2 linked regions of the Homo sapiens genome follow. The protein of the gene in region 1 purifies or fractionates together with the protein of each later gene. This does not show direct contact. Each region holds a gene or a part of one and is shown on either strand. Other genes may lie near its edges.

The links.
Region 2: the proteins of ZMAT3 (region 1) and CNOT6 purify together in Homo sapiens (affinity purification with western blotting, with the first as the bait; one study listed by BioGRID). This does not show direct contact.

Annotation. Positions count from the first base shown.
Region 1 is NC_000003.12:179,061,520-179,065,353, forward strand, and holds part of ZMAT3 (zinc finger matrin-type protein 3), read right to left. Parts: intron 1-3,834. UniProt on the Homo sapiens protein: Acts as a bona fide target gene of p53/TP53. May play a role in the TP53-dependent growth regulatory pathway. May contribute to TP53-mediated apoptosis by regulation of TP53 expression and translocation to the nucleus and nucleolus.
Region 2 is NC_000005.10:180,574,379-180,576,952, forward strand, and holds part of CNOT6 (CCR4-NOT transcription complex subunit 6), read left to right. Parts: 3' UTR 1-2,574. UniProt on the Homo sapiens protein: Poly(A) nuclease with 3'-5' RNase activity.

The sequences.
Region 1 (3,834 bases):
GCAATATAAAGAAAGATTGAGATGCTAATACCTTTTTTGAAAGGCTTAAGATTCTTCTCTCTAGTTTTTTTTTTAAGTACCAGAAACTCAAGGAAAAACAAAAAGTTATTTCAAAGTTATAATCCACATATGAAGCAAACTAAAATAGACACAATTTTGAGCAACTGGTGGCATTCAGGAAAGGGTTACCTATTTGAACATCTCTTGTGAGTAGCATGGGATCATGACACTGGAAATACAGGGAAGGAAACAGCTCTGCAGTGAACAATATTTCCCCACTCATAATAGTGCAAAATTCCCTATTCACAATAATGCAAAAACTCAATGTTAATTTTCAACAATTGGCATCAACCTGCAAATAGAGCATGGAAAACTTAATTTGATGACAGAATGGATAAAAATGTGATCAATCTTGACAGTGTCAAAGTAAAACTATAGCCAGCTCAAGTTGGGAGTCAGAAAGGAGAAGAGAATGGAGAGGAAAAAAAAGGTAGGGAATGGGTGGAGAACAGGTGATTACTACTTTTCATTATAAATCCTTTGGTTCCTCAGGCATTATTTTAAATAAAAATATTTTTAAATTTTTTTAGGAGAAAGTTGTTACCATTGGCTAATGCTACAAAGGGGTCAAGTGAGAAGGAGTTAGATTTGGCCTGTAAGATCATGGTGACAATGGAAAGGACCATTTCAGCGGCCTATAGGAATGGAAATCAGAGTACAGTGGGCTGAGGAATGAATGGGAAATAAAGACCTGAAGAGAACAATTCTACCTGCAGAATGCTAAGGACAGGAGAGGAGAGGAGAAAGGTTGCTAATAGAAGGGATTAAAAGTAAACAGAAGGTTGCTGCTGCTATTTTTATTTATATAGAAAAGACTTGGGCATAGTTTTTGATTGAGGTGAAAAGGTGATGAAATCCAGAAAACAGGATGAGGAATCAAACTTGGACAAAAGAAAGGGTATCTATCATTTCGAAATAAGAAGAAATGAGGTAGGGGTAGACTAGAGGAGGAGGCAAAAAACTGGCAGGATCACAGAGAGCTTCTGTCCTCTAAAGTGATCAAAGCAAGAGCTAGAAAAGCCTACAGAGCTGGCGATTTCAGAGAGCAGAACAAGAAAACCAACAAGGATTGATTATTGGGTAAATGGACTAAGCTGACAGACGAGTAGTATGGTTGAAAGCATATTTACATTTGAAAATCATTTTATTTTGCCTCATTTGTTGGTTGAATTATTCTTCATGAGAATCTTTTAAGGTAACCTGGTATCTGGATCTAAAAGACTATCTCGGGAGAACAATCAAGGAAAACAAAGTTTTGCTTATTTACACAAGGTCCTACAGCAAGTTACTATCAAGGTAGTAACAACAGTAAGACAGCTGTGTGCCATCTCATTCTGCTCATTTGAGACCCAAACACTTCTAAACAATAGCAACCTATTTCAATCAACCAGCATTTATTAAGATAACATATGCAAGTCTCACAATCCTGCAGAGGAAGTACAATGACCCCTACTTTACAGATATTGAATAAAGAGAGATTCAGTGTCTTGCCTAAAGTAACTGAGCCAAGATCCTAGCCCAAAGTTGTTAGATTCCAAAGCATATATGCCACGTGTAAAGCACATGCATTAAAACCAAATCTGAAGTGTGTTTTGGCCATTCTCAGTCCACTGCAAGTCCATTTGGAAAAAAATCAGATAGGAGAATTTTGAATACATGAAAATTAGCTGAGATTTAATTCAGTGATCCAAACCTGGGTGATCAATATTAAAATGTAAGTGCCAAAATCAGTGCTTTAAATTTTGGGAAAAATCTAATAGCATTCTCTTCATTATGAATTATGAATTAAGACCACTACACTCAGCATCCTAATTCTAAAACTATTCTTTCACCTGTGTTCTCTTTCTCTAATCAATCTAATTCATGGTAGGTTGCTATCTGGCCACTAACTATTACAAATAGAAAGCCATGTTTATGACAAATTTTATAAATGTACTTTGAGTAAGTAGATCTTTTTAAATATATACATGCAAATTAGCAAATAAACTGGTGACTTTAAACTGTGGATGCCTTAGCAAAATTCATCCGTGCTTTTTGCTTTTCTTTATTTCTGTTAATAACCTTCCCTGCTAAAGCAATTCTTCCTCTGGGCATTTATGCTGATGAAACAGTGGTATGTTACCCCATGCCAGCCTTGCCCTAAGTAACCTGAAGCCTGCAGATAGACTTTAATAAAATGAAAATATGTTTCTCCTCCAAAGATTGGATTTTAAATTAAGTTATATCCAAAGCCCTAATTTTAAGAATATAATATTTGATGGCTTCATTAAAAATAAAACAATAGCTAATGATGTTTTGAAGCCAACTGACCAGTTTTTAAAAGTCCTTGGAATAAAACTAAATCTGTGATGACTACAGATACACATGGGTCACTGCTAAGGTAGCCCCAGCTTGGGAACACTGGGATGTCAGGAAAAAATGCTAGTGAGCTTAAAGGGAAGTATTTATTGGGCAGTTTCCACTGCGTGTCCTGGATTACTGGCACATGATACAGTCCGGCTCTAGTGTAACCACCATTGTTTACAATACCCGAGGCAATTTGAAACTCCACGATTTCAACAATGGCATCAACTGACTAAAAAGTTTTGAGTAATGTAATCACAGTGATTTATCACTTCACACAAATGTGTTTCTAGCTCATAAACAGGCTACCCGTGACCCATTTTATCTCACACATAACTGAAATAATGAAGGTACAGCTTGGTAATGCTCTGTATTAAAAATTAGTAAGTTTTTAGTCTTGAAATAAAATTTTACATCCATCATCTCATTTAATCCTAAACCACTTTATTAGTCTACAATCATTGGCATTCTACTTATTCCTGTGCTTGGTAAGCCTTACTCATTGGTCTTATCCTTCTCTTTTTTGTGTGTTTTTTGTTGTTGTCTTTGTTTGCTGGAGTGCAGTGGCATGATTATAGCTCACTGCTGCCTCAATCTCCCAGGCTCAAGTGAGCCTCCTGTCTCAGCCTCACGAGTAGCTGGGACTACAAGTGTCTGCCACTATGCCCAGCTAATTTCCTTGTATTTTTGTAGAGACAGGGTCTTGTTATGCTGTCCATGCTGGTCTTGAACTCCTGAACGCAAACTATCTTCCCGCCTCAGCCTCCCAAAGTGCTAGAATTACAGGTGTGAGGCACCACACCTGGCCTGGTCTTAGCCTTGTCTTCAGTAATCTTTCTTTTATTACTGCTTATTCATGTACACCCTCTGATGCATCTTTTTGGCTAACATTTCTACGCTTTCCTTCTTTGGTAGCTCACCCACTTCTAGAGTTATGTTCACACTCTGTTTATTATTCTGATCTACACTTTGCACTATCCACTCTCATCTTGACCATTTCTATCTTATTGAAATCCAGATTTCACTTCTAAGATTACCTTTCTTCTATGTTACCCTAACATAATTGCTCTGTATTTTTACACATGAACTGCTTTGCCTTAGTTGTCTGTTAAAACCTTCTCTCTTTAAGAGTTACCAATAACATCAGTCTCATTCGAATCTTTGCTTCTGAAGTCTTAGCAATATACTTTATTATACCCAAACTTTTCATTTTCTGTAAGCTCCTACTTTCTGATTACTTGCTTGCCTCTTTTCTTTCCCATCTTTACCCTGGTTTTTAGCTGCTTAAATTGTCCCATTACATCCTGTTCTCCTTCAACCTTTCCACTTAAAAATTCTGATTTTTGAGAAATTTACCTAAATTGTATTTCCCTTTTCTTATATTTTCTAATTTATTTATTCACTGTATCACTGAGGAAACTGAAATTAAGT
Region 2 (2,574 bases), on another chromosome or scaffold:
AGCCCAATATGCTTTATACTGCTAGACAGGGATTGGTGTGTTTGCACCTGTCTTTCATTTGTCATAAGAGATTTTCCTATTTCTTCTACCCAATAGAATATTTTCATGCCTGGAAATAGGAAAATGTGTGAACAGCGTATTCTCTTCACACAGAAATCTGTAGCACTGCTTTTTTGAGGCCAGTAGCAACATCCAGAGATCATTCTTCCATACTTTACTCCCTCCTTTTTCAGACTTGTTTGTAAAGTACAGAATCTGAATTTAGCCTTTATGATTGTATATGATCCACAGAAGACCTGATTTATGAAATTTTGTACTAAAATCATTTGGAAATGATTGTATTGTAAACTGAGGCTAAATTTTTTTTTAAACCTGTTTCATGTGTTATAAAGGCCAGCTTGTAAAAGAAGCTGCAACAGACTTTCTCTGCTCATGATTTGCACTCTTAGGGTTTTGTTAGCCCTTTTGTACTACTTTCTTTTTAAATTGAGAACATGGTTCTTTACATATAAATCTGCTTCAACCTTAGGATGTTTTCAGACCAGAGGCAACTTATTCATGAATTTTTATGAAAACTATCTACTAGGACAGATAAGCTGAACAGTGATGATCTGTAGACATTTATGGACTGAATGTAATGGTTGATATATGTACATTCTGATATTTTTAAATCTTTAACTTTTTAAAGTTAAAAACCTACAGCTGCTTAGGTCCAGCTTCTTAACTCTTTTTGAGACACTTCCTGTCCTATCTCCACTGTGCCTGCCTAAATTTGTTCTCACCAAGCACTGCCTGTGCATGCAGAGAAAATCTGTGCATCCTCTTTTATATTTTTAAAATACTGTTTAACATTTGTGAGAATTTTATGAAAATGCTTTTGTATGAGCTGTGGCTTTTTCCCATTGTGAAGCATTGAATATCACATTTTGGAACATGTTATAGGGTGAGTCCCTGGATCTTTGCTCACCAGATCCAAGCACTGCTTCTCGGTGTCATTGCAGTGTGCTGCTTGTCACCCAGAATACTACTATCATGTGAATTCTTTTTGTCGTCAGTGTCTTTTCCTTAGTCTTTTTGTTGTTGTTGTTGTTGTTGTTTTAATCATTCCTTTTTTAAGAAGAAGTAATTTTCCATTTATGAAGCAGTATGAATTAGATGTATTTTCAAAACAGGTCCCTAAGACAATTCTTCAGATCATTTTTAAAATGACTAAGTCATTTTAGTATGTCAAGCAAGATAAAAATTACATCATACCGTCTATTTTGCCCATAGTGCCATTTAGAGATGAAAACCAGCTTTAACTTTGCAAAGTGAACATGTACATGGTCTGCTCTCATTTATTCATTCTTCTCTCAAAAGTCAAATGAATGCAGAGGGAGCTTGGTCAAACTGCTTTTGTTTCAACTGCAGGCAGGGGAGCAAAAGGACGCCATGTGAGCATTAGGAAAAAAAATACTCACTCTTACTAACAATTTTTATACAGAAAATGAGTCATTTTGGAAATGATTCTTATGTTTTTTTTTTTTCTCCTTTTAGAAAATTCTCCAAAAGGTTTTGATGTTGAATCTTGGTCTTGGACCTGTTTTTTCCTTTGAGGGTTTTTTGTTTTTTGTTTTTTCTAGGATTTCATTGTGATGTTTTGGTTTTGTTTTTTGCTTTTTGTTTAAGTTGTGCTGACACCAAACACATCCAGTTTATAATCAGTACATTGGAAAGCTGGTATTGATGTAGAACCAGTGCATAACTTTTTATGGGGTTTTGTTATTGGTTTTTTTTTGTAAAGTGTGAATAAAAGGTATGTTTACTCATTTTTCCTGAACACTGTGTTGGTAATGTGCATCATGACAATTTCCAGTGAAGGTGAGCTGGAGCTGGTTGGACTAATGAGACTGAGGAAGCAGCTTTTCCTACGATCTGCATTATGTAATCACAGGTCCAGAGAGCTTTATGGAAGCGGGAGAGGAGGAGCACTTACTCATGTTGTATTTGTTAATGGAGGATGTCATCTTTTCATAGATGCTGGAACTAGAGTGCACTTGTTAGATGCTAAAGGTTTGAGCTTTACACAAAATGTCTTCATCTGTATTTGTTATTGTCTACAATATATTTGAATTTGGGGCAGCATATTAAGATGTAATGGCCTGTTATGTCTTGAAAATACTTGTTTTGCCTCTTCCAGGCATACTGCATTCTGTGGATCAGTTTGAACAGCTTCTCCACCTTATTTGGACAGTGATAAATTGAACCAAGAGTGTAGATTTACAAGTGTAACCTTCAAAAGAGGAAGAACTATTTGGGGTCTGTAGGTAATGAACAGTCACACCAAAATAGACTATGATGCTTTTGTTAAGAAAGGTTTCATGTTTTAGATATTTTCCGTGTCCTAAATAATTTTCAATAATCTATAATCCCTAAAATGCAATAAAAACTAGTATGTTTTCACGGTGTATATTTTTTTTCAAAAATTCTGTAACAAATATATTTAATGTGTTGCCATAATGTCATTTCAGTATTTTTGCTGGATAAATCCATTTTAGAAATGTCTTACAAAAAGTTTAGGGCATGTTTTCTGTT